Regions from separate parts of the Homo sapiens genome. Here region 2 is linked to region 1. The links come from fine-mapping of genetic effects on gene expression. A gene starts in region 1. The other region holds a variant in brackets. All regions are shown on one strand. Distances are between the middles of the regions. Region 1 holds the start of B4GALT3 (beta-1,4-galactosyltransferase 3). Region 2 holds the start of LOC112543491 (linc-UFC1).

Region 1 (13,453 bases):
ATTTCCAGCCTGGAAGATAATGGAGGGGAACCAGACTATGTCTGTAGGTGGCACGGAGAAAAGGGGGCTAAAGAATAAAAGTGAAGGCCGGGCGCGGTGGCTTACGCCTGTAATCCCAGTACTTTGGGAGGCCAAGGCAGGCAGATCACAAGGTCAGGAGATTGAGACCACCCTGGCTAACACGGTAAAACCCCATCTCTACTAAAAATACAAAAAATTAGCTGGGCATGGTGGTACACGCCTGTAGTCCCAGCTACTCAGGAGGCTGAGGCAGGAGAATGGCGTAAAACCCGGGAGGTGGAGCTTGCAGTCAGCCGAGATCGTGCCACTGCACTCCAGCCTGGGGGACAGAGTGAGATCTCAAAAAAAAAAAAAAAGAAAAAAAAGAATAAAAGTGAAAAGAGGGAAATCAAAGTGGGGTGGAGGGCAAGGAGAATGAAAAAGAAAGACTATCTTTTTCATTTTTCCACTTAGTCATTTGACAAATCTTGCTTGTGTATTGGTATGGACCTGATACTTAAGATGCTGCTGTCTAACATTTAATCCTGACAATTGGCAACCAACAATGGTGTGGTGTGGAACAGATGGTATATTAGTTATCTTATGCTCTTTCCTCATGTTAGATGTTTAAGTATCTTGCTCAGAGTCATACATGTAACAAGTGACGGAACTAGAATTTTAGCCCTATTGTGTCCAATTCCAACTCTGCACAAGCCATTCAATAAAGAAAAAATCACAGGAGAGTGTAGGACAGTGGGAATAACCTAAGCAGATTAAGGAAAAGTATGGGACTAACAAAGTTGGAAGAGCAGTGCCGGGTGCTTCTCCACACTCTAACAGTCTGGCCTTCTTAAAATTATTCTAGGGACCCATTTAGATGAAAGTGAAGTGGCATGTGCTTGAGGCTTCCTTAGAAGAAAGTCAGTCAAAATGAGGTGGAGATTGGGGGTACCTGGTGGATGACATAGATGCCATAAGCAAGCTGCTGGCGCTGCAAGAAGGGGTGCAGGTGGTAGAGCAGCAGGCGCAGGTGGTGCTCCCGGGCACGATGAGGCACAATGATGGCTGTTCGGGAGCGGGGCTCACAACCTGCAGGGCGGTACCGGCCCCCTGGTTCTACCCGGGGATTCCGCTCCACAATCTCTGCCAGTGATGGCACTGGGCTAAAGGACACCGACACAGGACCCACTGTTGGGAAGGAATGGCAAGTAGAGGGATCAGAGGGGCAAAGAGAAAAGAATCAAACTAGGGTTTGGGAATACCTCTGACACTGGCAGTCTGGTTCTGGGGCTTAGTTCTCAGGGCTCACTCAGAAATCTCGCATGCCTTGGATTACCTATCACTGGGACAGCTCTACAAAGGCTGGAAGGTGCAGGATCCTTACCTAGCCTTCTCTTCTTATTTTAGGGTTGCCTAACTTTCTCCTGTCTTACAGGGTTGGAAGCTATAGTTGAAGGCTGGAGAGACTTGCAACTAATTAAACCAGGGCTCATCTACAAGGAAAACAATTCCTAGCCTGGGGCAGGAAGAGCCCATAAAGGGACAAGCAGTAGAAAGTGGAAACCCAATAGTCTAATCTAAACTCCCAATTCAGAGTCTACTCTATCTCAACCTCAGCCCTCTATCTCAACCTCAGCCTACCTGCAGCCTCAGCCTACCTATCCTCTTCTAAGTTCCACTTCTGCCACTCCATGCCTCCCTATCCCCAAGCCTCCCTGTCTCCGCACCTTGTCCTTCCTTTCACCACCTCCTTCCTCCTGCACTTACCTAAGAGAGGAGATCGTTCTGGACAGTAGGGCAGACCTTGAGGAGCTGGAGGACCCCCTGGGGCCCCAGGCAGGTGACTGAGGTTACTGTAGACATCACGAGGGTGAGAATAGTCAAATGTCGGTCCCTGATCTCGGCCAAATAGGGCACTGAGACTTCGGAAGCCCCCCAGTGACAGGTACATCATGACAGCCAGCTGGGAGCCCACAAGCAGGGCCAGCGTGCAAGGCCGCTCCAGCAGCCTCCGCAACATCCTGGGGGTGAGATCTAGGGAGGGAGAGGGGAATTCTGGGGGTAGGCAGGAAGAGAGCAAGCCAGCAGAGAGGTCAGTAGGTAGGGTTGAAGGTGATGCCAGGGGTAAAGAGGAAAAAGCAGAAAACAAAGTCACAGAAGGGAGCACACAGGTGCACAGTCACGCAAGGAAACAGAATGTAACCACCAGTAACCCTACCACCTGTCACTTCAGCCCAAGTTTCGCTCTCCTCTACCTCCCCCCAAACCACTCCCACCATCTACTGTCAGTCCTCACCCCCAAAAATGTTTACATCATTCAAATCTCATGTTCATTTCAGAAAGTCTCTAGAGAACCCCCTCTTCCAATTTTAGAAGGGAAGAGATAGACTCACCTAGGTTCAAGCTGTCTTCTTAGGGATCATGGGGGCTCCAGGGGGTCCCGGGGGGACAGAGATGTGAGGCATTATCTAAAATTGGAAATGTCACAGAGGGCAGAGAAAGGCTCCATCCAGCACTCCAGCAGCGAATCTGGGACCAGCTGGAACAGAAGTGGTAAAGGATAACTAGCTACCTGCACCGCCAGAGATCAGGATCAGGGTGAAGCTGGTTTCCCAGCAGGCGAAGTGAAGGAAAGTGGTTGGAAAGGAAGAGGAGGAGCAGGAGATGGTAGGTCCCTCGCCTATCTCCCGTGCTACCCTGGAATGATAAGTGTCAGGTTCATACTTAACCACCCCCGTACCCCCACCCCAACAGGACAGATTGGGGAGTGGGGACAGGACAGCTAATGGAAACATTGTTTTCCCCCAGACCAAGAACCAGTTGAAGTGGCGACAGAGTCATGACAGGACCGTGGAGTGGCCTAAGGAGTACCCAGGGCGAAGTAGGAAACAGGCTCCTTCTATTCTTCATGTGCCTGGGTGCCAACTCCTCAGGTGCAGGGACCGTGACCACCTGGGGGCTGTAAGCGAACAGCCCCGGAGCTCGGCGGAGAGTAGGGTGGGGGTGGCGTCCTCTACCTTTTCTACCTTTCCCCTCTTCTAGCGGGGGTGGGGAGGAGGGTTACTGCTGAAGAGAAAGGGAGAGGGAGAGCAGGGGCAGAGACAGTCAGGGGTGGCTGGAAGGGCTCACCTAGAGGGGCGTGGTCCGCGCTGTGGAGGGGGTTAAAACCCAGCTCTTTCGGAGCACGCCCATCCTATCCCAGTCTCTTGCTTTTGCCCTACCTACTAGCAACGTGAGCCCGCCCGGCCCCCGTCCATACTTCCACCTAGGACCCCGTCCCTGCTCAGGCTCGTCTCCAGGCGTTACCCAAAACTTCTCACTCTCTCGAATGCCCAAACCTTTATCCCAGGCCTCCGTGTCGACGCATTCCCAGCGCACATACCTGGTCTTTTGCTGCCTGTCGTCACCGCCACCCCAACAGCCGGGCAGGCATCGCTGCCGCCATCTTGGAAGCGGGCGCTGCGGGGGCGGGGTCTCGCGTCATGGGGCGGGGCCTCGGGGCGGAGCCACCCGGGCTGACTAGGCACCCGGTCCCAGACACCGCGTGGCCGGGGGCTTGTGAGGGAGCAGCGCCTGAGCCTGCCCACCTGGAACGCGTTGTAGGCGACCCCCTGGGGAGCGGGTGCTAGGGTTCAACTCCACTACGCAGACTGCTAGTGGGATTTCATTTCCTGCCCCTCAGATTTGTAAAAGCAGAAGCTCAAGCCCTTCATTTTCCTCTGGGCCGAGACTGATCAGGAGGCTAGTGAGCCGGTTTCTGGTGCTCCGCTGACCTCGTTATCACCTTGTGGTTGGCTGAGCCCTCTCCCAGTGTGTCAGTGGCACCCCCTGCAGCCTAGTGCCACTTAGTATCAATTGTTCCTTACGCAGGCTACAGCGTTGCGGACCGCTCTAGCGCATTTTTGTATTCCCGTTGTATCCCGCAGGCCTGGAAATAAAAAGCGATTAGTTAATAAAACAATGAAACATTGAAGGTGGAGGGAAAGACAGCGTCTTCTTTAAAGTCAAATGATGTTTCCCCAGATATTAGAGTAAAATGGATGCTCCGTTAACATGCAATATGTTTACCTTACGACAAACACTACCGCCTAGCATATTGTGTTCCTTAGAAGCAGATATTCACGCTGAAGAAGCAATCAGAGACTTGAATAACTCACAGAATCTGCCCCAAAAAGCCCATGGTCTTGTGTATCTTGTATGGAGGGAGGGATGTAAACAATATAACGTGATAAATATGCTGGCCTAGAAGTGGCAACTCATTCATACGTGGAGATTCTAGAAAGGCTTCCCAGAAGTGATGGCTAATGGGAAACCTGAAGGACTTGTCTATAGCATATCCTTCTGCTTTAAAGATTCTGTTTTCATGGGAGTTATTTTACAATTCATGTAGGTAACTGATCTGTATGCAAATTCTATCCTGTCTGGTAGAGGTTCAATTAACCTGCTGTTCCCCACACTGTGGGGAAAAAAAGCAGTTTTGGCGTCCATTTTCATATTCATTTCTGTTTTCCTGATCCATAAATATGTCCGTTCTCTAGATTTTCTCTTGTATTAATTATAACATCTGCTAGTTTCTTCATGAGTTAGGTAAAATAAACACGTGTTCATTCTTTTCTTAATTTCTTTTTTCTTTACTTTTTTTTTTTTTTTTTGAGAGGGAGTCTCCCTCCTGTTGCCCAGGCTGGAGTGCAATGGCGCTATCTCGGCTCACCGCGACCTCTGCCTCAGCCTTCCTCAGTAGCTGGGATTACAGGCATGCGCCACCACACCCGGCTAATTTTGTATGTTTAGTAGAGACAGGGTTTCTCTGTGTTGGTCAGGCTGGTCTGGAACTCCCGACCTCAGGTGATCCACCCGCCTCGGCCTCCCAAAGTGCTGGGATTACAGGTGTGAGCCACCACGCCCGGCCTTTTTGTTTACTTTTTTTTTTTTAATTTAAAAATTTGTGACAGGGTCTCACTCTGTCACCCAGGCTGGAGTGCAGTGGCAAGATCACAGCTCACTGCAGCCTCAACCTCCTAGGCTCAAGGGATCCTCCCACCTCAGACCCGTGAGTAGCTGAGTAGCTGGGACAACAGCACATCCAGCTAATTGTATTTTTTGAAGACACAGAGTTTTACCATGTTGTCCAGGTTGGTCTCCAACTCCTGGGCTCAAACTATCTGCCCACCTTGGCTTCCCAAAGCGCTGGGATTACAGGCGTCAGCCACAGCATCAGGCCTCTTAATTTTATTTCTCTTTTTCCTTCCTTCCTTCCTTCCTTCCTTCCTTCCTTCCTTCCTTCCTTCCTTCCTTCCCTTCTTCCTCCCTCCCTCCCTTCGTCCCTTCCCTTCCCTTCCTTCTTTTTTTTCCTTTCCTTTCCTTTTTTTTTTTCCCAAATACCCAGTCTTCAAGGAGAATTTTTTTTTTTTTGAGTCGGAGTCTTGCTTTGTCACCCAAGCTAGAGTGCAGTGGTGCGATCTGAGCTCACTGCAACCTCCGCCTCCCGGATTCAAGCGATTCTCCTGCCTCAGCCTACCGAGTAGTTGGGATTACAGGCTCCCGCCACCAAACCCGGCTAATTTTTGTATTTTAGTGGAGACGGGATTTCACCATCTTGGCCAGGCTGGTCTTGAACTCCTGACCTCATGATCCACCTACCTTAGCCTCCCAAAGTGCTGGGATTATAGGCATGAGCCACTGCACCCGGCCTATGTGTTCATTTTTATGTTGGTATTGACAAAGACCATCTCCTTAACCAGACTTTCAACAGGCTCCTCTAAGGCCTCTTTTTGGCTAGGTCTTGTCCTTATGCGCTGTCTTGGGCCTGCCTAGCCAGTTATAGCAAGAATCCTGCCAAGTCAGTTTAGGGATAATTCCCTGCCCGCTTCTCCACCCTTGATAGCTGATCTATCTGATCACCCTCACCTGCCTTCAGGAAAGATCCTGTTAGGTCAGTTTAGCAAGAATCCTCCTAGCCTTAATGTAATTTTCCTTCCATCCACTGACTCTGATTCTGCTCATTGACTATTGCAATAGTCTTCCTTACTGTTTTAACAAGTGTCAGAATAATTTTTTCTTCAACAGTTTAAGGGTCATAATTTTACCTTCTTCTGAAAATTACCTTTTTTTTTTTTTTTTGAGACAGAGTTTTGCTCTTGTTGCCCAGGCTGGAGTGCAATGGCACCATCTTGGCTCACCGCAACCTCCGCCTCCTGGGTTCAGCCAATTCTCCTGCCTCAGCCTCCCGAGTAGCTGGGATTACAGGCATGCGCCACCACACCCAGCTAGAAAATTAACTTTTAACAGATGAATAGTGTTCCAAGCAGAGGAAACCATAAGTGCAAAATTCTGGAAATGAGGAAGAAATTAGGGAGTTTGGGAAATTAAAACTGGGCCCGCAAGGCTGGACAGTAGAGTGAAGGGAATGTTGAGATATGAGACTGGAGAGGTAAGCAAATGCCAAATAATGAAGGACTCCACAAACCATGCTAAAAGAGTTTGGGTCTTATCCAGAGGGCAAGAAGAAGGCATTAAAGTGCTGTAAATAGAGAGTGCTATGATCAGAACTTTAGGAAATGTGGAGCACTAATTGAAGTAGTCAAGACCAGAGGCAGGGAGACTATTTAGAAAGTTACTGCAGAAATCCAGGAATAAGATGAAGCTCATGCAGAATAGGTAATACCCGTGGGACTGGAGGGAAGAAAGTAACTTTGGGAACTTTCAGGAGGCAAACAGGACTTGAAGATTGACTGGATGTGCCAAGTTAGGGAATTGGACTCCAAGAGGACACCCAGATTTCTAATTTGGACCACTGGGTGGTGCCATTTAATGAGAAACAAAACTTAGGAAGAAGCACATTTTGGGGAAGGGGTAGAGATGACAAACTTTAGACATAATGAGTTTGAGGTGCCTGTGAAGGCTCAAAATGAGATAATGCTGGGTTTAAATACAATACCAACTTTGAAACCCATTGGCTGTGTACTGAGCAATACACTCTGGATTTCATCTGTAAAATGAACTCTAGCCTTAAGGGGTTTTGTGATCATTAGAACTATGGAAAACTTTTGAGCACAAATAGAAGCCAAGACAAAGCCTTGATTTTTTTTATTATAATTTTTTTTTTTTGAAGAGACAGTCTCACTATGTTGCCCAGGCTGGTCTCAAACTCCTGGGTTGAAGTGATCCTCCCGCTATGGCCTCCCAAACTTGATTTTTTGTTTGTTTTACTTTTATTATTTTTTATTATTATTTTTAGCTTCTGATATAGTATAACTCAAAAAGCCTTGATTTTTTAAGAATATCACTGTGTAGTGGAAAAGACAGACTTAAACAGATCATTGAAATGTGGTTCTTGGCCTGGCATCATGGCTCACGCCTGTAATCCCAACACTTTGGGAGGCCCAGTTAGGTGGATCAGTTGAGTTCAGGAGTTTAAGATCAGCCTGGGCAATATGGCAAAATTCCCTTCCAAGAAAAATACAAAAATTAGCTGGGCATGGTGGCTCACAGCTGTAGTTCCAGCTACTCACAGGGCTGAGGTGGGAGGATCACTTGAACCCAGGAGTTCAAGGCTGCAGTGAGCTGATTGCACCACTGCACTACTCCAGCCTGAGTGATAGAGCCAGATTCTGTCTCAAAGAAGAAAGAAAGAGAGAAAGAGAGAAAATGTGGTTCTCCCAGAGGACCCTTCCTTTGAGCCTCTGTTCCTCCATCGCGTTCTGTCTTACAGGACTGACCCTCACTTTCTTTTTTTTTTTTGGGATGGAGTTTCTCTCTTGTTGCCCAGGCTGGAGTGCAACAGCATGATCTGCAGCTCACCGCAACCTCCGCCTCCTGGGTTCAAGTAACTCTCCTGCCTCAGCCTCCCAAGTAGCTGGGATTACAGGCATGTGCTACCACGCCCGGCTAATTTTGTATTTTTAGTAGAGACGGGGTTTCTCCATGTTGGTCAGGGTGGTCTCAAACTGCTAACCTCAGGTGATCTGCCCACCTCGGCCTCCCAAAGTGGTGGGATTACAGGCTTGAGCCACCGCGCCCAGCCTTCACTTTCTGTCTCCTTCTGTATCTAACCATCTTCTTTTTTAGAGTCAGAGACTCACTCTGTCACCCAGGCTGGAGTGCAATGGCATGATTATAGCCCACTGCAGCCTTGAACTCCTGGGTTAAGGTGATCCTCCTGCCTCAACCTCTCAAGTAGCTAGGACTACAGGTGTGTACCTAGCTAATTTAGTTTTTTGTGGAGACGGAGTCTCACTCTGTTGCCCAGGCTGGTCTTGAATTCCTGGCCTCAAGTGAGCCTCCTGTGAGCCACCACAAAGGCCTATCTACTATCTTCTGGCCATTCCTTTACATTAATTTGTAAGCTCCCTGTTTTCAAGAACCTTCCCTTCTGCTCTGTCTCACCCTGGCCACACCCTGGACTTAGTCATCACCTAGAACTGTTATGTTTCTGAAAACTTAAATTTTAACATGCTGGTTTCCACCACAACATCCTGTCTTTCAATATTCTGAATAAATCCTGGGGCCCACACTGGCCCAGTCATGGCACATAACACAATAGAAGAAACCCAGTTTAGTAATCAAAAACTAATTTAAATCTCTACTTAATTTCTCAAGGAAATATCAGAGACAGGGGAAAGGGGCAGTGGATTAGGAGCACATTTTAATGGACAGCCCAATGTCTTTAAAATCCTCTGTCTCGGCCGAGCGCAGAGACTCATGCCTGTAATCCCAGCGCTTTGGGAGGCCGAGGCAGGTGGATCACCTGAGGTCAGGAGTTCGAGACCAGCCTGACCAACATGGTGAAACCCTGTCTCTACTAAAAATACAAAAATTAGCCGGGTGTGGCAGCACACGCTTGTAATTCCAGCTACTCGGGAGGCTGAGACAAGAGAATTGCTTAAACCTGGGAGGTGGAGATGGCGCCACTGCACTCCAGCCTGGAAAACAGAGGGAGACTCTGTTGCAAAAAAAAAAAATATTCCTCTCCCTCTTCCATTCAACATTTTCTACTTGGATGTTATTTCTTCCCAAAACTATCCCTTCCAACTCCCCTCAGCCTACACTGTTGTTCCAGATCTCTCTCCCACTCAGCTCTTTCTCTTACCATATTATCCTCCAGTTTCTGGTTTTCTGGTCTGTTCTCTTTACCTCTTTACCTCACTTTGGTTTTGTATAACATAGAAGAACCTGAACCTGACCTAGCAAACAGAAATCATGCCCCCCTGACACCCTCCCACCATCCATGGGTTCCCTGCAGTCTTACAGCTTTCTTTTTTTTTTTTGGAAACAAGTTCTCATTCTGTCACCCAGGCTGGAGTGCAGTGGCACAATCACAGCTCACTGCAGCCTCCACCTCCTGAGTTTAAGTGATCCTCCCACCTCAGCCCCCACCCCATTCCCTGAGTAGCTAGGACTACAGGCGTGCACAAGCACACCTGGCTAATTTTTTTTTTTTTTTTTTTTTTTTTTTTTTTTTTGAGATGGAGTCTTGCTCTGATGCCCAGGCTAGAGTGCAGTGGCATGATCTTGGCTCACTGCCACCTTTGTCTCCCAGGTTCAAGCAATTCTTCTGCCTCAGCCTCCCAAGTAGCTGGGATTACAGGTGCCCACCACCGTGCTGGCTAAATTTTGTATTTTTAGTAGCTATGGGGTTTCATCTTCTATCTACTAGGCTGGTCTCGAACTCCTGGTCTGGTCTCGAACCAGAGACCAGATTCTCAAACCAGGCTGATCTTGAACTCTGACCTCATGATCCACCTGCCTTGGCCTCCCAAAGTGCTGGGATTACAGGCATGAGCCACTGCACCCTGCCTTTTTTTGTATTTTTTGTAGAGACCAGGTTTCATCATGTCCCCCAGGCTGGTCTTGAACTTCTGGCCTCAAGTGATCCTCCCACCTTGGCCTCCCAAAGTGCTGGGACTACAGGTATGGGTCACTGTGCCCAGCCTTACTGCTCACTTCTAGAAGGAGAGACAGGCACCTCCTCCAGAAACACTTCTGTGGCCTCATATTCTGTGCTAGGTGCCCCTCCTTGATCATGGCACCTATCACAGAAGTCTGAAATTTTTGTCCTACTTGACTGTCTCAGCCACCAGATTGTGAACTCTGAGGATTAGGACCATGTCTTTCCTTTTATCATCCCTTCAATGTAAGCCAGAACTTTTTGCACAAATTTACAAAATGGCCCTTAGATCTGACCTAGACAGTTCCTTGATATAACTGTTTTCTCACGTGAATGCAGGGGTTAGAAGTCAGGGAGCAGACAAAGGAAGAGATATAAGGAAAGGAGAACTGGCCTTTATTGACCACTTACTAAAAGCCAGACACAGTGCCAAACATTTACATCATCATATTCTTAAGTCTGGACCTCTCTATAAGGCAGGTAATAGTACAAACGTTTTGTAGGTAAGGAAACTGAGGTTTACAGAGATCAAGTAATTAAGGTTGCATCATTACAGGTAAGTAAGTAGCAAGGCTTAGATTCAATTTGACTCCAAAAATCCATGTCCTTTCCACATGCTGTGGAATGTTTACAATGTTTACAACCCATTGGCTTATTTATTGAACAAATAAATGGGATAAACAGTCAATTCTCAATGCACGATTAGGTCAATTAATATCTTTTACTCTTCAGATCCATTTTCAGGTGAAAATTCTTACATTTTCCGCTCCCTACTACTTATTTGCATCTATATTATCAACAGAATGTGTTGGCCAGGCACCCTGGCTCACACCTGTAATCCCAGCACTTTGGGAGGCCGAGGCAGGCAGATCACTTGAGCCCGGGAGTTCAAGACCAGCCTGGGCAACATGGAAAACCCCGTCTCTATACTAAAAATACAAAAAATTAGCTGGGCATGGTGGTGCATACCTGTAATCCCAGCTACTTGGCAGGCTGAGGCAGGAGAATCACTTGAACCTGGGAGGTGGAGGTTGCAGTGAGCCGAGATCACGCCATTGCACTCTAGCCTGGGTGACAGAATGAGAATCTGTCTTAAGAAAAAAAAGAAGAAAAAGAAAGGCAGGGGGGGAGGGGGGAGGGATAGCATTAGGAGATATACCTAATGCTAAATGATGAGTTAATGGGTGCAGCACACCAGCATGGCACATGTATACATATGTAACTAACCTGCACATTGTGCACATGTACCCTAAAACTTAAAGTATAATAATAATAAAATAAATTTTAAAAAAAAGAGAGAATGTGCTAGTGTGTCTCTGTGAAGTTGGATGTGTGTTATGTCAATGTGTCACTGTTGGTGTGGGTGTATGGTGCCTGTTTGTTGTGCCAAGACTGTGAGGGATACTTAATCTACTTCCTCCCCTCCCTTTCCTTCCTAATGCTACTTAAGTACCCTGGGTCTGTCCCCATGTAAGATCCTGCCTGGGGAAGTTGTTCAGTGTTGTTGCTCCCCCGCCTTCCCTGACCCCCCTCTTTCTGAGCATTTTTAGCACTCGTGGTTTCCTCCAGCTGTCATCTGGTTTCTCGTGGTGCCAATGATTTTGGCTTGGCCCCAGCAACAGTCAATGGGGAAGGTACTCAATTGGTTCAGAAACATCCTCTCAGCCAATAAAATGTTAATACATTGAAATCCACTTTCTTCTCCCTTCCTCCCCCACAAGCCCTGACCAATGAGATGCTAGTTTTGTCACTTACTGCCAATCTGGTATTTTAGAAAACAAAATACTGTAATACTGTATGAAGATTACAGAAATGAGACTAGAGATGGAAGAGAAGTGTAAATGCCGATTCCACAGCACACTCCAGGAACCCTGGCTGTCCCACCTCCATTACAAAAATAGTGGCTGGACAAATGTCCAGATTTCCTCTGTTTGAACCACAGAAGCAGAGAATCTCAGGGGCAGAAGGGACTTTAGGAAATTGGCCCAACTTATTGCTTCAACTTCCTCCCCCACCTCAAACACATACTCATGCACAACACTTGCCATCTCATAAAATGGTTGTCCAAACTCTTCTTGAACTTCTCTAGGGACAGGGTTCTAATCCCTTGTCATTCAATGCCTTTTCTTTTTCCATTTCCTCTTTTCATCTCCAGGACCAGATACTTGAATTGTTTCAGTGCCTCCTTACTTCCTGTTATTACTGTTTCTGTTCCTCCTTATATATCTACACCCCAGCTCAGGCCCACGAGGGCAATAAGTAGGCAGATGGGAAACAGAGCTCACTGTGGCTCTTACAGGGAGATATGTGCCCCCCCACAATCCCATCCCTAGCAAGAACTTGTTGGACTCCTATTAGGTAAAGCCTACCTACAATCTGGGTCTTGGAGGTGTGGTAAGGCAGAGACCATTCCAGAAAAGGGTCAGGCCTTGCCTGGGATTGAGGGCTGAGATGCCCATCACTTCTCTTCGATGAGCTAGCTCTCTCTGCCCCTCTTTCACTCTAGCTCCTGCTTACTTACCCAATCACAGAGGTGGCCCCTAAGCTCAGTCTCATTTTCAGAAAAACTTACTTATGCCAGTGAGAACCCTACTTGGTGAGCGAAGGGCTTTCTCTTAAAATAACAGGCAGAAAAGTGATTTAAAAGTGAATCTACACCTGTAGTCCAAGCTACTTAGGAGGCTGAGGTGGGAGGATTACTCGAGCCCAGGAGTTCAAGGCTGTAGTAAGTTATGATGGTGCCACTGCACTCCAACCTGAGCCACAGAGCGAGACTGTCTCAAAAGAAAAGGCCAGGCATGGTGGTTCACACTGGTCATCCCAACACTTTGGGAGATCGAGGTGGGAAGATCCCTTGAGGCCAGGAGTTCAAGACCAGCCTGGGCAATATGATAAGACCTCGTCTCAACCAAAAAAAAAAGTAAATTAGCTGGGTGTGGTAGCTCGTGCCTGTAGTCCTAGGTACTCAGGAGGTTGAGGTGGGAGGGTTGCTTGAGCCTGAGAGTTCAAGGCTGCAGTGAGCCAAGATCACACCACTGTACTCCTGCCTGGTCAACAAAGGGAGACCCTATCTCAAAAAAAAAAGTGTATCTCCATGAACATTAAAGGAAAGTGAGAAGGGCTATCATGATGACCTGTTCTCCAGGGCCCAGCCCAAGGTAGCCCTCCATAACCCTCATAGTCCATTCAGTTCAGGGCTCATTAGGCTCTTATCTTCTAGTCCCTTTTACTGTCCCATTGCTTCTGTTTGCGGGGAAGGTGGAGTGGGAGCAGTATACAACCTCCCCTGCCCAGAATGCAGTGTGAACCCCTTTAGGACAGTCGTATATATTGTTTGTATTTGTACCTTACATCTACTTATCACAGAACTCTGCTCATTGTACCATCAACTCATAGTATCAAGGTCCATAAACATACTATCTGTGGTCTCATTTTGCAAACTAGATGAAACGAGTAAAGATCACTATTGTCTTGTCTCCATCTTCTTCAGCCTGGTTAGTAGGAGGACCACAGGAAGGGCCAGGGGGCCAAGCCTAGCAGGGAGAACCGTGTTTACTGGAGAGAAGA
Region 2 (16,840 bases), 40 kb before region 1:
AGCCATAGTAAGTGAGGGCAGCCTGGCAGCGGCATTAATCGGGGAGTGGATAGCTTCACTTCGGGAGGAGAGATAGAGATTGGCAGCCATCTTGCTTTGGGGCAAGCTGGCAACGCCGGTTTGTCTTGACGGCTGCTTAGGGCGGTAATAAGGGATCGAAGAGGATAGCATTCTTGAATGGGAAACATTGGTGGCGCCACAGCTGGCTGGTGGCGACTTCAAGACCCACTGGAAGGCTGGGATTGGCAGCCATGACTCATAAGGGCGGAATACCACGGGGATCGGTTTGTCTGGCGAACTTGAGTGAAGGGTCAAGATCTGGATTTCACCTTTCCTCTGAGCTTCCTGATAACCCGGACGTTCCGTAAACCCGGATCCGGAGCCGAAAGTGGTGCCCAGATCCCGTCTCGGAATTCATTTGTTCAGCATTTACCTTTTGAACGCCGGTTTCCTGTAGGAAGTGTCGCCTAGCTGATCCGTGTAGGGCTGTTGGGAATTGGGGGTGGGGAGGATGGTGCGGGTACGTTCTGGTGTGGCTTAAGAAAGTGGTAATAGATAGGGGAAGACCAGATTATGCGAAGCCTTGTAAATTAATTGATTTTTATCCTTAAGGCAATGAAAAGTCTTTGAAGAATCTCAGCAGAGGTGTGAACAATTTCATTTGCATTTTAGATCGCTGCGTGCAGTGTGAAGGATGAATGAATTGAGGAGAATCAAGGAGAGCAGTTGTGAGGCTCTTTTCCAGGCAAGGATGATGATGGTCTGCCTGTGGAAGGGAGAGTGCGGATGGGGAGATACAGATTGGTTTAAGAGGTACGAATGTTGTGACTTGGACAACTGGGGAATAATGATACCAGTTTCTTTCTCGTTTAGGGGGGAGATAATGAGTTTTAGGTGCCCCTGGGATATTAGCTAATGTGGGTTGGGAACTCAAAAGAAAGGTTTGAGGTGTGTGTGCGTGTGCATATAGATAGCTGTTGAAGCCATGAAGTGGGCTGGAGAGGATACCTGCATTTGCGGGATAGGATGAGGGAAGCCGAAAAGAACACTGAGAAGGGGCAAACCGAAAGGAAAGAAGAAAACCATAGAGAACTATCAAGGAAACTGGTGAAAGCGTTTAGTGTAACAGAGATATAGTAAAATGCTAACTAAAATATATACATCAGGGCCGGGCATGGTGACTCACACCTGTAATCCTAGCTTTGGGAGGCCGAGGCGGGTGGATCACTTGAGGCCAGGAGTTCGAGACCAGCCTGACCAACATGGTGAAACCCTGTCTCTTCTAAAAATACAAAAAAAATTAGATGGGTGTGGTTGCACATGCCGGTAATCCCAGCTACTTGGGAGGCTGAAGCATGAGAATTGCTTGAACCCAGGAGGCAGAGGTTGCAGTGAGCCGAGATCGCGCCACTGCATTTCAGCCTGGGCACCAGAGCAAGACCCTGTCTCAAAAAAAATGAAATAAATAGGCCGGGTGCTGTGGCTCACTCCTGTAATCCCAGCACTTTGGGAGGCCATGGCGGGCAGATCACCTGATGTCAGGAGCTGGAGACCAGCCTGGTCAACATGGTGAAACCCCGTCTCTACTAAAAATACAAAAATCAGCCAGGCATGGCAGTGCGCGCCTGTAGTCCCAGCTACTGGGGAGGCTGAGGCACAAGAATCGCTTGAACCCAGGAGGCAGAGGTTGCAGTGAGCTGAGGTCGTGCCACTGCACTCCAGCCTGGGTGACAGAGTGAGACTCTGTCTCCAAAAAAATAAAATAAAGTAAATAAAATGTATCTATCAGATATTGCAACAAGGGCCAGGCACAGTGGCTCACACCTGTAATCCCAGCACTTTGGGAAGCCTAGGCAGGTGAATCACTTAAGACCAGGAGCTGGAGACCAGTGTGGTCAACATGGCAAGACCCCATCTTTACAAAAAATACAAAAATTAGCTGGGCATGGTGGTGCGCACCTGTGATCGCAGGTACTCCAGAGGCTGAAACATGATAATCACTTGAACCCAGGAGGCGGAGGTTGCAGTGAGTCAAGATTGCACCACTGCACTCTCGGCAACAGAACAAGACTTTGGTTTTTTTGTAAATAAAACAAATAAATAAAAAGGCCAGGTGTGGTAGCTCACACCTGTAATCCCAGCACTTTGGGGACCGAGGTGGGCCGATCACCTGAGGTCAGGAGTTCGAGACCAGCCTGGACAACATGGTGGAACTCCCATCTCTACTAAAAATACACAAATTAGCCAGACATGGTGTCGGGCACCTGTAATCCCAGCTACTTGGGAGGCTGAGGTGGGAGAATCGCTTGAACCCAGGAGGCGGAGGTACAGTGAGCCGAAATTGCACAATTGCACTCCAGTGAGACTCTGTCCCCCCAAAAAAGATACTGCAACAAGGAGGTCATTTAGGAAATTTGGAGAAAGCTGTTTTGTAGTTATGGTGGATAGAAACCAGATTGAATTGAGAAGGCACAACGTATAAAGACAGTTTTTTCATGGTGTTGATGTAAAAAGGAGACTAGTGGTAGGGTGTTGCAGGAGGGAGAATTCCAAAGAAGGTGAAGAAGTTTTAGGTACCTGTGAGATAGCTAGATAGATATGTCCTAGTGGCATGTTTAATACACAGATCTAAAACTTAAGAGAAAAATATAAGTGGAGAAAAAAAGCAAGCACAGAATAAATATGACACATTTACACATGCATTAAAAAATTATGAAGAGTGGGCCTAGGAGGGATAAGACTTATACTTTTCATTTTACATCTATCTTTATTGCTTGAAATTATTTTATTATGCACATATTATTTTACAGAAAGCTACTTTTTTTTTTTCTTTTTTGAGACAGTCTCGCTCTGTCACCCAGGCTGGAGTGCAGTGGCACATCTCAGCTCATTGCAACCTCTGATTCCCAGGTTCAAGCAATTCTCCTGCCTCAGCCTCTTGAGTAGCTGGGACTACAGGTGCACGCCACCATGCCTGGCTAATTTTTTGTATTTTTAGTAGAGACGGGGTTTCGTTATGTTGGCCAGGCTGGTCTCAAACTCTTGACCTCGTGATCCACTCTCCTCGGCCTCCTAAAGTGCTGGGATTACAGGCGTGAGCCATGGTACCTGGCCAGAAAACTACTTTTTAGAAAGCCCTGTGATATATAGGCCAGAAATTCTGAAACATCAACATTTCGGTGGTAGTTGAAGCCATAGATTTGGATAAGCTCCCCAGAAAAGAGCAGAGGGCTAAGAAGAGTGCTCTCGGAAATTCCAACATTTAAGGCACAAGTAGAAAAAGAGCTCTTGGAGAATCTTTGAAAAGGAACAGCGAGTGAAGAAGAAGAAAACCTGGGAGATAATTGTCACAGAATCAAAGGGAAGAGTATTTCAAGGGGGTGGATGTTGAAAGTGTCAGATGTCCCCACAGAGGCAGCTGATAGGAAAGGTGCTCTTACCTCTGAACCTAGGTTTCTTGGAAGCTTGGCACAAGAGTCAAATCCAGATCTTGAACCTTTCCCCAAGTATCACTGGGCAGTACAACCCCCAGGCTATTCTGCCCTTATGCATCATGGCTGCCAGTCCCAGTCTTTCAGTGAGTCTTCAAGTCAACACCAGCCAGTGCTGGCACCATCAATCTTACTACACTTAATAATGATACCCTGGCTGGGTGTGGTGGCTCACACCTGTAATCCCAATACTTTGGCCAGGAGTTCAAGATCAGCCTGGGCAACATAGTGAGAGACCCCATTTCTACAAAATTTTTTTTTAATTAGGTGGGTGTGCACTTGCCTGTAGTCCCAGCTATTTGGGAGGCTGAGGTGGGAGGATCACCTGAGACTGAGGAGTTTGAGGTTGCAGTGAGTCCTGATGGCACCATTGCACTCCAACCTGAGTGACATAGCGAGACCCTGTTTCAAAAAAAAAGAAGAAGAATGCTACCCTCTCCCAGTCCTTACTATGGCCCTGAAGCTGCCATCAACAAAAACCTGTTTTTCTAGAAATGGTGAAATTAAGGAATTGAAAGTGGGAGTATTCGTTGGAGTTGGAGGTCAGGAACTAACTGTATTTTTCATGGGTTTTTGTAAAACCTCCCAGGATGATAGTAAGAGTTGGCACAAAAAGAGGTTAATAGGTGCTGAAGGCTGGGTTTGGAGGATCACTTGAGCCCAGGAGTTTGAGGCTGCAGTGAGCTATGATTATTGCCACTGCACTACAAAAAGAAAAAGAAAAAAAAAAGGTGTTAAAGGGCAGTAAAGCCAGATGGCATAAGCTTCAAAGGGAGAAGAATTTTTGCAAGAGGATGGAAGCACAGTGGTCTAAAAGTAGCAGTGGGTAGCAAAGAGAAAGCTGATACCTTGCCACGCCTTCCTACAGGAGCAAGAATAAACAGCCTGTAGAAGGTTGAAGGGAAAAGGTGTTCATTAATTGGGGAAAGTAAAAAATTTCTACCTCACCTCTGACCATTTTTTCCTCTATACCCACTGGAACACTTTTCTTTTGTAAACAATCTCCCTTATGTATTCATTGTCTTCGTAGATTGCTCCTTAGCTTTTCCTAGAGGAATAGCCATCAGGACAGAGGTAGCTGTGATGTGTGGAATGCAGATGTAATCCACATAAGCCCGCAAAAAAGACAGACACAGGCACTACTTCTTAAAGGAGAATAATATTCTCCCTCCGTATCCATATTCTGAAGTGGTTTGACACTCAGTAGTCTTGGCACCATGATGGTAATTCCTTTCCATGAACCCACCTCTCCTCTCCAAACCTAACCCAATTCCATTCAGAGGATTAGAGAAAGCTGAGGATTGCCTTTTCTAGTCATAGTATGATGTCCAGTCTGCTTATTGCAACCAATGGGGAAGAGAACAGATCACTTTCTTCACTGAGAATGGAAAGCTTAGCCAGGCACGGTGGCTCATGCCTGTAATCCCAGCACTTTGGGAGGCTGAGGCAGGAGGATCACTTGAGGTCAGGAGTTCGAGACCAGCCTGGCCAACATGTTGAAACGCCATCTCTACTAAAAAATAAACAAATTAGCTGGGTGTGGTGGCATGCACTTGTAATCCCAGCTACTCGGGAGTCTGAGGCAGGAGAATTGCTTGAACCTGAGAGGTGGAAGTTGCAGTAAGCCAAGATCACGCCACTGTACTCCAGCCTGGGCAACAGAATTGAACTCTGTCTCAAAAAAAAAGAATGGAAAGGTGAAGGAAGGGCTGAGATTTGCCTTCATTAGGCCTTCCAAAGTAATCTGTCTTCCCCTGCAGGACTCACAGAACTCAGTTCTTTTCCCTGGGGCCAGACTTCAATGACCAAATTTTCCAAATTCCAAACATTGGGACAGTTGCCTGGCCAGCTGTTCCTAAACTAGTCAGTTTATTTGGAGGGATATTTTCTGCTTGGGGAGCCCTGGAAGTTCACTCTTTCAACATGAAGTCCTAAGATCGTAACGCCAACAAAGAGAGCTGTGCAGATTTCCTGAGCTAAGCCAAAGGGACCTCCTGTGTAGAGATGGGCACCCTCATGTCCATCACTGAGAAAAAAATATTTCAAACAGTTTAGAGTTTTTTGTTAGCTATAGCTAGACTGCTGTTCCTCCTTAGCTTAAACTATACATCATCTGTACAGTTAAAACAAAAACTTCATCTCTTGCCTTATGAACCACCCTCTCCTTAATTCAACTAAAAACTTGGGGGAACTTCCTCTGAGAAGATTGAGAACCCTGTGTAGAATTCTCTTGCGGAAGTCCTCTGCTTGTTATGTTTCTTCCTTTACATTAGTTCCTGTCTCTTCCTCAGCTGAGAAAACATCCCTCCAGCTTTCAAAGACTGGCCCCTTCAGCTCTATCCTGATGCCCATCCTTTTCTACTTATCAAAACACTACTCCCACAGTTACCTCTTCCTTCACTGGAATCTGTAACCTGGAACCCTTCAGCTATCCACAGGCTCACATTTCCACTGTGTCCTTAACTGTAGTTTTCAACTCCCTGTAATTCTCAGTAATTAGAAAGGCCTTTTTACTATCCTTAGATAAATCTCTTTGTAACTTCCATGTATTGGTTCTGTTTTTTCTCTCTGGGTCAACACATCATAGCCACATGTCCCTACTAAATATTTTTTTACAAGTCAGTGGTAGTACCAGTTTAGAGTAAAGCAGATCTGTTCTCTTTCTTGATCTGAATACTCTATTAAGGCTGCTTGTCCTAGTCCATGTTCCTTCCCAGGTCTGCCAGATTAATCTTTTCAAACCAGATATTCCCTTAAGAAGTCTCTATCTTGCTAGCACTAGCCCCTTGTCACAAGTATCCTCTTGACTCTTCCAGGGCCACTCGGATCCCTGTGTCCCTACCAGGGCTTTACTCTTCTGCTTTACTCTGCAGGGACTTGCTGACCTGATGATCTGCTCTATTCTTGGTTTCCTATTAACTCTAAGCTGCCCCAGTTACTCATTTTCATCCAGGCATTATACTACTGGCTCCTCCTAATTTCAGTTCAGCTTGGAACCTAGCTCTAAGTCCAGAACTAGAATTTATTGCAGTTCTGGCTTCTATGGCTCCCGAATAAAAGAGTAGGGACCTCGGCCACACATGGTGGCTCATACCTGCAGTCCCAGGACTTTGAGAGGCTGAGGCGGGTGGATTGCTTGAGTCCAGGAGTTCAAGACCAGCCTGGGTAACATGGCCAAACCCTGTCTCTACAGAAAAAAATACAAAAATTAGGCATGGTGGCATGTGCTTATAGTTCCAGCTACTCAGAAGGCTGAGGTGGAAGGATCACTTGAGCCTGGAAAGCCGAGGTTGCAGTGAGCCAAGATCGCACCACTGCACTCCAACCTGGGTGACAGAGCCAGACCCTGCTGCCTCAAAAAAAAAAAAGAAAAAGAAAAAAGGAGTAGGGACCACAATCAGTTGCTGAATCCTAGTGATCTGCTGTTCAAGTCGCCTCAACCTGTTCCCTTTTCTTCATTCCCCAGCTCTGACCCTCACTAATATGACAGGCAAGTTCCTTAACTTCTCTAAACTTGTTTTCTTATCTGTGAAAGAAATATAACATCCACCTTACAGATCATTGTTTTAATGATTATATTAAATGATGTATAGAAAGTGTTGCACAGGGCCTAGTGCTGGATAAATGTTACCTAATATTTATTATTGTATTATATATAACAAGTTTCACCAGGTTTCAGAAATTCAGCAGGCTCTTTATCAATGACTCTTTGCTGCCCCCATGGGGATGACTTTTTCCAAGTCATTGGTTATTCCAAAGACCGTAACATAAAACAACCCTGTCTCACCAATCCCACCAGTTAATTAGAGAATTAACCAATTTTTCTTTGGGTGGTTGTTCAATTAAGTAAAAATGCTCTTATATTCCAGACCATTCTTTTTCAAATAACATAACAGGCTGGGCGTGGTGGTTCATGCCTATAATTGCAGCACTTTGGGAGGCCAAGGCAGGTGGATCTCTTGAGGTCAGGAGTTCGAGACCAGCCTGACCAACATGGTGAAACCCCGTCTCTACTAAAAATACAAAAATTAGCCGGGTGTGGTGGCCCGTGCCTGTAATCCTAGCTACTCAGGAGGCTGAGGCAGGAGAATCATTTGAACCCGGGAGGCAGAGGTTGCAGTGAGCTGAGATTGTGCCACCGCACTACAGCCTGGGTGATAGAGCGAGACTCCGTCTCAAAAAAAAATTTTTTTTTAAATAAATAAATAACAATAGGCCGGGCGCAGTGGCTAACGCCTGTAACCCCAGCACTTTGGGAGGCCGAGGCGGGCAGATCACGAGGTCAGGTGATCGAGACCATCCTGGCTAACAAGGTGAAACCCCATCTCTACTAAAAACACAAAAATTAGCGGGGCGTGGTGGCGGGCGCCTGTAGTCCCAGCTACTCAGGAGGCTGAGGCAGGAGAATGGCATGAACCCAGGAGGCAGAGCTTGCAGTGAGCCGAGATCGCACAACTGCACTCCAGCCTGGGCAACAGAGCAAGACTCTGTCTCAAAAATAAATAAATTAAATAAATAAATAAATAAACAATAATAAGGTTATCAAAAGGTTGAAAGTAAAATTATAGGAAAAGATAAGCTATGCAACATAAACCAAAAGAAGCTTATGTTAAAATCAGACACAGTTGACTTGAAGGCAAAAAGCATTACTAGAAATAAGGACATTTTATACCAATAAGTTTAATTCACCAGGAAGTTAAAAAATAAATTTATTTATTTATTTATTTATTTATTTATTTATTTATTTATTTTAGACAAACAGCTTTATTTGAAAGACGGGGGACAGCCAAGTCCCCCTGACCCTGCGGTCCTGGCAACGTCGGTCTCAGGCGTAGGAGGACCAGTGTCCTGCGGAGAGAAAAATAGGGTTAGGGGTCTGCAGCCGGGGTCAGGAGTCAGGGGTCAGACCACGCGAGCAGCCACACCCGGGGGGAGGCCGCGGCCCCTGTCGGGGCCTGGGTTTCACCGTCGCACATGGCGGCAGCACGCGGTGAGCTGAGGCCCCCGGAGGCTCTTGCGCGCCGAATTTCACCCGCGGCCACGGCCAAAACCGGGGGTGATTTTCAACCAACGCCGGAAAACATTTCTAAATTTGTATGCACTTAACAAAACCTCAAATAATATACAGCACCGAGCTACAAGGAAAAATAGACAAGTTCACAATCATCGTAGGAGATTTAGCACACCTCTCTCAATTAATAGAGTATACTTCTTTCAGAACTGATAGAAAAAGTCAGGGCCAGGTGCAGTAGCTGATGCCTGTAATCCCAGCACTTTGGGAGGCTGAGATGGGAGGATTGCATGAGGCCGGAGTTCAAGACCAGCCTGGGCAGCATAGGGAGACCCTCATTTCTA[CA/C]AAAAAAAAAAAAATTAGGGGCGGGCGCGGTGGGTCACGCCTGTAATTCCCAACACTTTGGGAGGCCGGGGCGGGCCTGAGTTCAGGAATTCGAGACCAGCCTGGCCAACATGGCGAAACCCCGTCTCTACTAAAAGTACAAAAATTAGCTGGGTGTGGTGGCGGGCACCTGTAATCCCAGCTACTCAGGAGGCTGAGGCAGGAGAATAGCTTAAACCCGGGAGGCGGAGGTTGCAGTGAGCCAAGATCGCGCCACTGCTCTCTAGCATGGGTGACAAGAGCAAGACTCCGTCTCAAAAAAAAAAAAAAAATATGCTGAGCATGGTTGTGCATGCCTATAGTCCCAGCTACCCAGGAGGCTGAGGTGGGACGATTACATGACCCCAGGAGGTTGAGGCTGCAGTGAGCTATGATGGCACCACTGTACTTCAACCTGAGAGACAAAATGAGACCAACTCTTTCTCTAAAAAAAAAAAAAAAAAAAAAGAGAAAGAATAAGAAAAAATCAGCAAGGATATAGAAAATTTAAATAACACGAGCAGTAAATTTGATTCAACAAGCGTATAGAGTCCACTATACCCAACGACTTCAAATTACAAAGCACATGTTCAAGCACATTTGGAACATTTAAGAAACTGACCAGATTGTTCTATAAAGCAAGTTTCAACAAATTTCAAAGGCTTCAAATGATGCAAAGTATGTTTCTTGCCTACATTACAGTGAGGCTAGAATCAGTAACAAAAAGGTAACTGGGAAGTCCCTATGTTTACAAGTTAAATACAGCCGGGCACAATGACACATGCCTGCAGTCCCAGCTACTTGGAGGCCAGAGGATCCCTTGATTCCAGGAGTTTAAGGCTGTAGTGTGCTGAATACATTTTTAAATGACCCACAAAATAAATCACAATTGGAGTTAGAAAATATTTTGACCTGAGTGATAATTTAAAATGTCACAAAGCATTCCGGGCACCATGGCTCAAACCTTTAATCCCAGCACTTTGGGAGACTGAGGCAGGTGGATTGCTTGAGGTCAGGAGTTGGAGACTAGCCTGACCAAATGGTGAAACCCCATCTCTACTAAAAATACAAAAACTTAGCCGGGCGTGGTGGTGGGCACCTGTAGTCCCAGCTACTCAGGAGGCTGAGGCGAGATAGTCACTTGAACCTGGGAGGTGGAAGTTTCAGTGAGCCGAGATTGCGCCACTGCACTCCAGCCTGGGTGACAGAGCGAGATTCTGTCTTAAAAAAAAAGAAAGAAAGAAAGAAAAAAGGGCCGGGCGCGGTGGCTCACGCCTGTTAATCCCAGCACTTTGGGAGGCCAAGGTGGGCAGATCACAAGGTAAGGAGTTTGAGACCAGCCTGACCAACATGGTGAAACCCTGTCTCTACTAAAAATACAAAAATTAGCCGGGTATGGTGGCGTGTGCCTGTAATCCCAGCTGCTCGGGAGGCTGGGGCAGGAGAATCGCTTGAACCCAGGAGGCAGAGGTTGCAGTGAGCGAAGGTCATGCCACTGCACTCCAGCTTGGGCGACAGAGTGAGACTCTGTCTCAAAAAAAAAAAAGAAAAAAGAAAAAAAAGAAAAGAAAAAAATGTGCTTAGAGGAAAATACATAGTCTTAAGAGCACATAAGAAAAAAGAGCCTGGATGTGGTGGCTTACACTTGTAATCTCAGTGCTTTGGAAGGCCAAGGAAGAAGGATTGCCTGAGGCCAGGAGTTTGAGACCAGCCTGGGCCACATAGGGAGACCCCTGTCTCTTTTAAAATAAGTAAGTTAATAAATAAATAAAAATTTTAGGATGAAAGAAAAGCTGAGAATTTGTGAGTTCTGCATCCATCTCAAGAACCTAGAACAGTGAATTACACTGAAAGGATTTAGAAGATTGGAAATGTGTACATAGAGATGTCTGGAAGAATATATACCTAAAATGATAGTGGCTTTTTAAAATCTCTTGGGGTGGTATTTTTGGGTTAATTTTATTTTTCTCTATTGTTCAAATAAGCTAAAACAAATAATAAAGCCATTGTAATTTTTGGGGGTAAAAACACTAATGGAAATTTTTTTTTTTCTAGACTGAGTCTCGCTCTGTCACCCACGCTGGAGTACAGTGGCACAATCTCAGCTCACTGCAACCTCTGCCTCCCAGATTCAAACGATTCTCCTGCCTCAGCCTCCCGAGTAGCCGGGACTACTGGCACCTGCCACCACACCCGGCTAATTTTTGTATTTTCAGTAGAGACGGGGTTTTACCATGTTGGCCAGGCTGGTCTCGAACTCCAGACTTCAAGTGATCTGTCTGCCTTGGCCTCCCAATGTGCTGGGATTACAGGCATAAGCCACCGCGCTGGGCCTGAGGAAAATTTTTAAAAAATAATCGAGACTGCTGTTATGGTGACACCACCACGAGAAGCTACAAGCAAAATACTGATAACCTCATATGTGAAAATTTTTCATATTGTTTAAAATATTATGAACAAAAGAAAAGACAAATAACAAACTGGGAAAAATATTTACAACTCATCACAAATGGCTAATCCTTTTAATGTTAATATTTAAAAAAAAATACAAATCAGGTCAGGCACAGTGGCTCATGCCTGTAATCCCAGTACTTTGGGAGGCTGAGGTGAGAGGATCACCTGAAGTCAGGAGTTCAAAACCAGCCTGGCCAACACGGAGAAACCTGTCTCCATTAAAAATACAAAAAGTAGCCGGACGTGGTGTGGGCACCTGTAATCCCAACTACTCGGGAGGCTGAGGCAGGAGAATCGCTTGAACCCGGGAGGTGGAGGTTGCAGTGAGCTGAGATTGCACCACTGCACTCCAGCCTGGGCGACAGAGCAAGAATCTGTCTAAAAAAAAAAAAAAAAAAAAAAAAAAAAAAAAAAAAAAAAAGGCTGGGTGCAGTGGCTCACACCTGTAATCCCAGCACTTTGGGAGGCCCAGGCAGGTGGATCACGAGGTCAGGAGATGGAGACCATCCTGGCCAACATAGTGAAACCCTGTCTCTACTGAAAATACAAAAATTAGCTAGGCGTGGTGGCAGGCGCCTGTAGTCCCAGCTACTCAGGAGGCTGAGGCAGGAGAATCGCTTGAACCTGGGAGGCGGAGGTTGCAGTGAGCTGAGATTGTGCCACTGTACTCCAGCCTGGGCAACAGAGCGAGACTCCATCTCAAAAAAAAGAAAAAGAAAAAAAAGACGGGGCATGGTGGCTCATGCCTGTAGCACTCCCAAATCCCAGCACTTTGGAGGCCAAGGCGGGTGGATCACCTGAGGTCGGGAGTTCGAGACCAGCCTGACCAACATGGAGAAACCCTGTCACTGCTAAAAATACAAAATTAACTGGGCGTGGTGGTGCATGCCTGTAATCCCAGCTACTCAGTAGGCTGAGGCAGGAGAATCGCTTGAACCCAGGAGGCAGAGGTTGCGGTGAGCTGAGATCGCGCCATTGCACTCCAGCCTGGGCAACAAGAGTGAAACTCCATCTCAAAAAAAAGCAAATCAGTAAGAAAAATGAATAATAGGCCGGGCGCAGCGACTCACGCCTGTAATCCCAGCACTTTGGGAGGCCGAGGTGGGCGGATCACAAGGTCAGGAGATCGAGACTATTCTGGCTAACGCGGTGAAACCCCGTCTCTACTAAAAGTACAAAAAATTACCCAGTCGTGGTGGCGGGCGCCTATAGTCCCAGCTACTCGTGAGGCTGAGGCAGGAGAATGGTGTGAACCCAGGAGGCGGAGCTTGCAGTGAGCCGAGATCGCGCCACTGCACTCCAGCCTGGGCAACAGTGCAAGACTCCATCTCAAAAAAAAAAAAAAAAGAAAAGAAAAGAAAAATGAATAATAATTTAAAAGGGGGAAAGGAGGTAAGACTTTACAGAACAGAGCTGGGTGTAGCATGCACCTCTATGTAGCTGCTTGAGAGGCTGGGTCCCTTTGAGCCAAGGAGTTCGAGACCAGCCTGGGCAACATAAGGAGATTCTATCTCTAAAATAAATGAATAATAATGAAATATTGTACAGAACAGGAAATACAAATGGAGACTAAACATCTGAAAAGATAGTAGGCCAGGTGCAGTGGCTCATGCCTGTAATCTCAGCACTTTGGGAGGCTGAGGTGGGCAGATTGCTTGAGCTCAGGAGTTCGAGACCAGCCTGGGCAACGTGGCATGAAACTCCGTCTCTACAAAAATATACAAAAATTAGCTGAGCATGGTGGCATGTGCCTGCTGTAGTCCCAGCTACTCGGGAGGCTGAGGTGAAAGGATCACTTGAGCCCAGGAGGCAGAGGTTTCAGTGAGCTGAGATTGCACCACTGCACTCCATCCTGGGTGACAAGAGCAAAACTCTGAAACATAGGTTTCACCGTATATTCTTTTGTCCTTTTTAAATTTGGGGCAAGTGCATGTATTATCTATTCAGAAGTAAATATTTTAAAATCAAATGTATGTAAAAGTTTGTTCGCATTTTATCATATTTGTGCTTTCCCTGCTCTCTCCTTGCCTGCATGTTTAATGTATTCATCCTAAGAGTTCCAGTTCAAAGGCCATCAGCCATATCTGATTCTCTCAGGCATAGTTACTCAGACAGTACTTTGTATATCTCCAGAATAGGGATTTCTTTTTATTATTATTATTATTATTATACTTTAAGTTTTAGGGTACATGTGCACAATATGCAGGTTAGTTACATATGTATACATGTGCCATGCTGATGTGCTGCACCCACTAACTCATCATCTAGCATTAGGTATATCTCCCAATGCTATCCCTCCCCCCTCCCCCTGGGATTTCTTATTTTATGGTAATTGTCACCATATTAGTTTCTCCTACCCAAAGAGGAGGTAGAGATGAAGTCCCATTAATGGTTAAACGCAAAGTCTGTAGTTCCAGAATCCCTAAGGGTGATACCAATACCACAGAAGGTGCTGCACATACCTCAGCCCATTCAAGGGAGGGGGGGTTTAGAGTCCCTGCAGTTCTACTGTGCTTAATGGAGAACCACCAGGCTCTCCTTGTGTTTTCAGAAACAGGTTCATTATTGATCACTGTCTGCCATTTAGGGCCATCAATAGCCCCCTGCTACTGCTCCTAATCGCTCAGATCCCTGCTGCTAATTTTATATTGGCCTAGCGATGGTAGAAAGGTATATCAATTGGTTAAGTGTGTGACTTCTAGAGCCAGGCTGTGCTTGGATTGAATTCCAGGTCTCTACCATTTAATTGCTGTGTGATAGGGCTTTCTTTCATTCAACTTGTACTTCAATTTCTTCACGTGTAAATGAGGATAATGAGAGAACCCACCCCAGGGTTATAACCAGAAATAAAGGAGCTGATGTTTGTAAAATGTTTAGGACAGTGCCAAACACATAATAAGCACCGTATAAATGTTAGCTTAATATTATAATTCTTTTTACCAAGTGATTCTAAGTGTGAACCCAGTTTCTCATAGCATAAGAGACCAAGCTACAATTTACCATAATTCTTTGTTGAAGTCTCCAGGATAATTAAAGGTAATAACAAAAGAGAATAACTTCCAAAACTTACTGTCCATCTACACTAATCTTCTATAACGTGGCTTCCTCCCTATAGCAGAGCTATCATTTCTTTCACCGTTCTGAGTTATTTTCCAGCATATTAGAGTCCAGACCAATGCCTTAAAGAACAGAGGAGCCGGGTACAGTGGCTCACACCTGTAATCCCAGCACTTTGGGAGGCCGAGGCGGGTGGATCACAAGCTCAGGAGATCGAGACCATCCTGGCTAACACGGTGAAACCCCGTCTCTACTAAAAATACAAAAAATTAGCTGGGCGTGGTGGCAGGTGCCTGTAGTCTCAGCTACTCAGGAGGCTGAGACAGGAGAATGGCGTGAACCTGGGAGGCAGAGGTTGCAGTGAGCCGAGATCATGCCACTGCACTCCAGCCTGGGCAACAGAGCGAGACTCTGTCTCACGAAAAAATAAAAAATAGAGAACAGAGGAAAAGCTTCCTCTTTTTTCCCTAATCCAAGATTTATTTCTCTAATCCAGTATTCACTTCTCTTTCTGTCCCAGGAGCTGCCTTTTCCCATGATGACAGACAGTGGGGCTTTCAACTACCTTCAGGGGTTCTCCGATGCACCCAACTGTCCTATTGCATTGCCTACATTTCCTAGAATTGAGCTATTTAATCAATCCTTTTCTATTCTTTTTTTTTTTTTTTTGAGATAGAATGTTGCTCTGTTGCTGAGGCTGGAGTGCAGTAGTGCGATCTCACCTCACTAAAACCTCTGCCTCCTGGGTTCAAGCAATTCACCTGCCTCAGCCTCCAAGTAGCCGGGACTACAGGCACACACCACCACACCCTGCTAATTTTTTGTATTTTAGTAGAGATGGGGTTTCACCATGTTGCCCAGGCTGATCTCAAACTCCTGAGCTCAGGCAATCCACCCACCTCGGTCTCCCAAAGTGCTAGGATCACAGGCGTGAGCCACCACGCCTGGCTGAATTCCTTTTTATAACTATTTAAGGATAATTTCCATGAGGACAGGGAGCCCACCTGCCTATGCACTACTGTATTTCCAATGCCTGGAACATATTAGGAACTCCATAAACATTTGCTCATGAATGAGTTCTTCCTCTGAAAAACAGTGAGGCTCAGGCCTACATACTCTTCCTTATTATTTTTTTTTTTTGAGACGGAGTCTCGCTCTGTCGCCCAGGCTGGAGTGCAGTGGCGCGATCTCAGCTCACTGCAGGCTCCGCCCCCCGGGGTTCACGTCATTCTCCTGCCTCAGCCTCCGAGTAGCTGGGACTACACACTTTTTTTTTTTTTTTTCAGAGATGGAGTCTCTCTCTGTCGCCCAGCCCGGAGTGCAGTGGCGAGATCTCGGCTCACTGCAAGCTCCGCCTCCCGGGTTCACGCCATTCTCCTGCCTCAGCCTCCCAAGTAGCTGGGACTACAGGCGCCCGCCACCACGCCCGGCTAATTTTTTTGTATTTTTAGTAGAGACGGGGTTTCACCATGTTAGCCAGGATGGTCTCGATCACCTGACCTCGTGATCTGCCAGCCTCGGCCTCCCAAAGTGCTGGGATTACAGGCGTGAGCCACCGCGCCCAGCCCCAGTCTTCTCAATTTTAGTTTCTTGTCTCATGTGAGCATTACTTAATAGTAAGTTAAATCCATAGTTTAAACATTTCTCTAAAAGAGGCATGTCCTACTGAGATGCAACTATGCCTATAATAGAGGCAGGCCTATGTTTATAACAGAGACAGTGCTTTGTATTATCATACATTATTATGTGCTATGCTTTACTAAATGGTTTAATAAGGTGATTTTCCGGCCCGGTGCGGTGGCTCAAGCCTGTAATCCCAGCACTTTGGGAGGCCAAGGCGGAAGGATCACTTGAGGTCAGGAGTTCGAGACCAGCCTGGACAATATGGTAAAACCCGTCTCTACTAAAAATACAAAAATTAACTGGGTGTGGTGGTAGGCCCCTGTAATCCCAGCTACTGGGGAGGCTGAGGCAGGAGAATTGCTTGAACGCAGGAGGCGGGGGTTGCAGTGAGCCGAGATTCAGCCATTGCACTCCAGGCTGGGCATCAAGAGTGAAACTCTGTCTCAAGGAAAAAAAATAAAAATTAAAAATGGGGTGGTTTTCCAAAACTATGAAACAAAAACAACATGCAGCTTTATAAAGACAATTTTTCTGGTGCTTACTTTATGTATCAAGATACTCATTGATGTTAAAAATATTGATTGAACATTTAATCTGTGGCAGACGCTATATTAGGTTTTAGAAGCACAGCATTGAACAAGATAGATACACAATCCCTACCCTGATTGAGCTTCCAGGCTATCAAGACAATTATACAATTAATAAAGTGTGATGAGTAGTTACCATAGAAGTATTCTCAGGGATAGAGGTCTTCTGCCTGCACTTGAACAAGAGCAGCGCTATATTGATTATAATTTGGGACTCCAGGTAAGATTTTGTTTGTAAACCTGGCTTCACTACC

What was found.
Region 2: its variant is fine-mapped to the expression of B4GALT3 in whole blood (INTERVAL, PIP 0.98).

The regions. Positions count from the first base shown.
Region 1 is chr1:161,174,041-161,187,493 of GRCh38, forward strand. It overlaps B4GALT3 (beta-1,4-galactosyltransferase 3), which reads right to left and starts at 3,467. Exons shown (of 8, transcript NM_003779.4): 1 at 3,383-3,467; 2 at 2,394-2,539; 3 at 1,768-2,034; 4 at 953-1,188; 5 at 1-9. The coding sequence starts at 2,020. It overlaps ADAMTS4 (ADAM metallopeptidase with thrombospondin type 1 motif 4), which reads right to left. Exons shown (of 9, transcript NM_005099.6): 9 at 10,262-13,453. It also overlaps a transcript of PPOX not described here. RefSeq lists silencers at 2,238-2,287, 3,127-3,176, 3,387-3,556 and enhancers at 3,155-3,654, 4,793-5,294, 8,325-8,384, 10,709-10,908, 11,679-11,728.
Region 2 is chr1:161,132,774-161,149,613 of GRCh38, forward strand. It overlaps LOC112543491 (linc-UFC1), which reads left to right and starts at 2,377. Exons shown (of 1, transcript NR_156734.1): 1 at 2,377-5,169. It overlaps LOC124900457 (small nucleolar RNA ACA64), which reads right to left and starts at 8,563; the gene lies at 8,435-8,563. RefSeq lists a silencer at 1-28 and an enhancer at 49-358. The variant CA/C (reference allele first, on the strand shown) is at 8,847.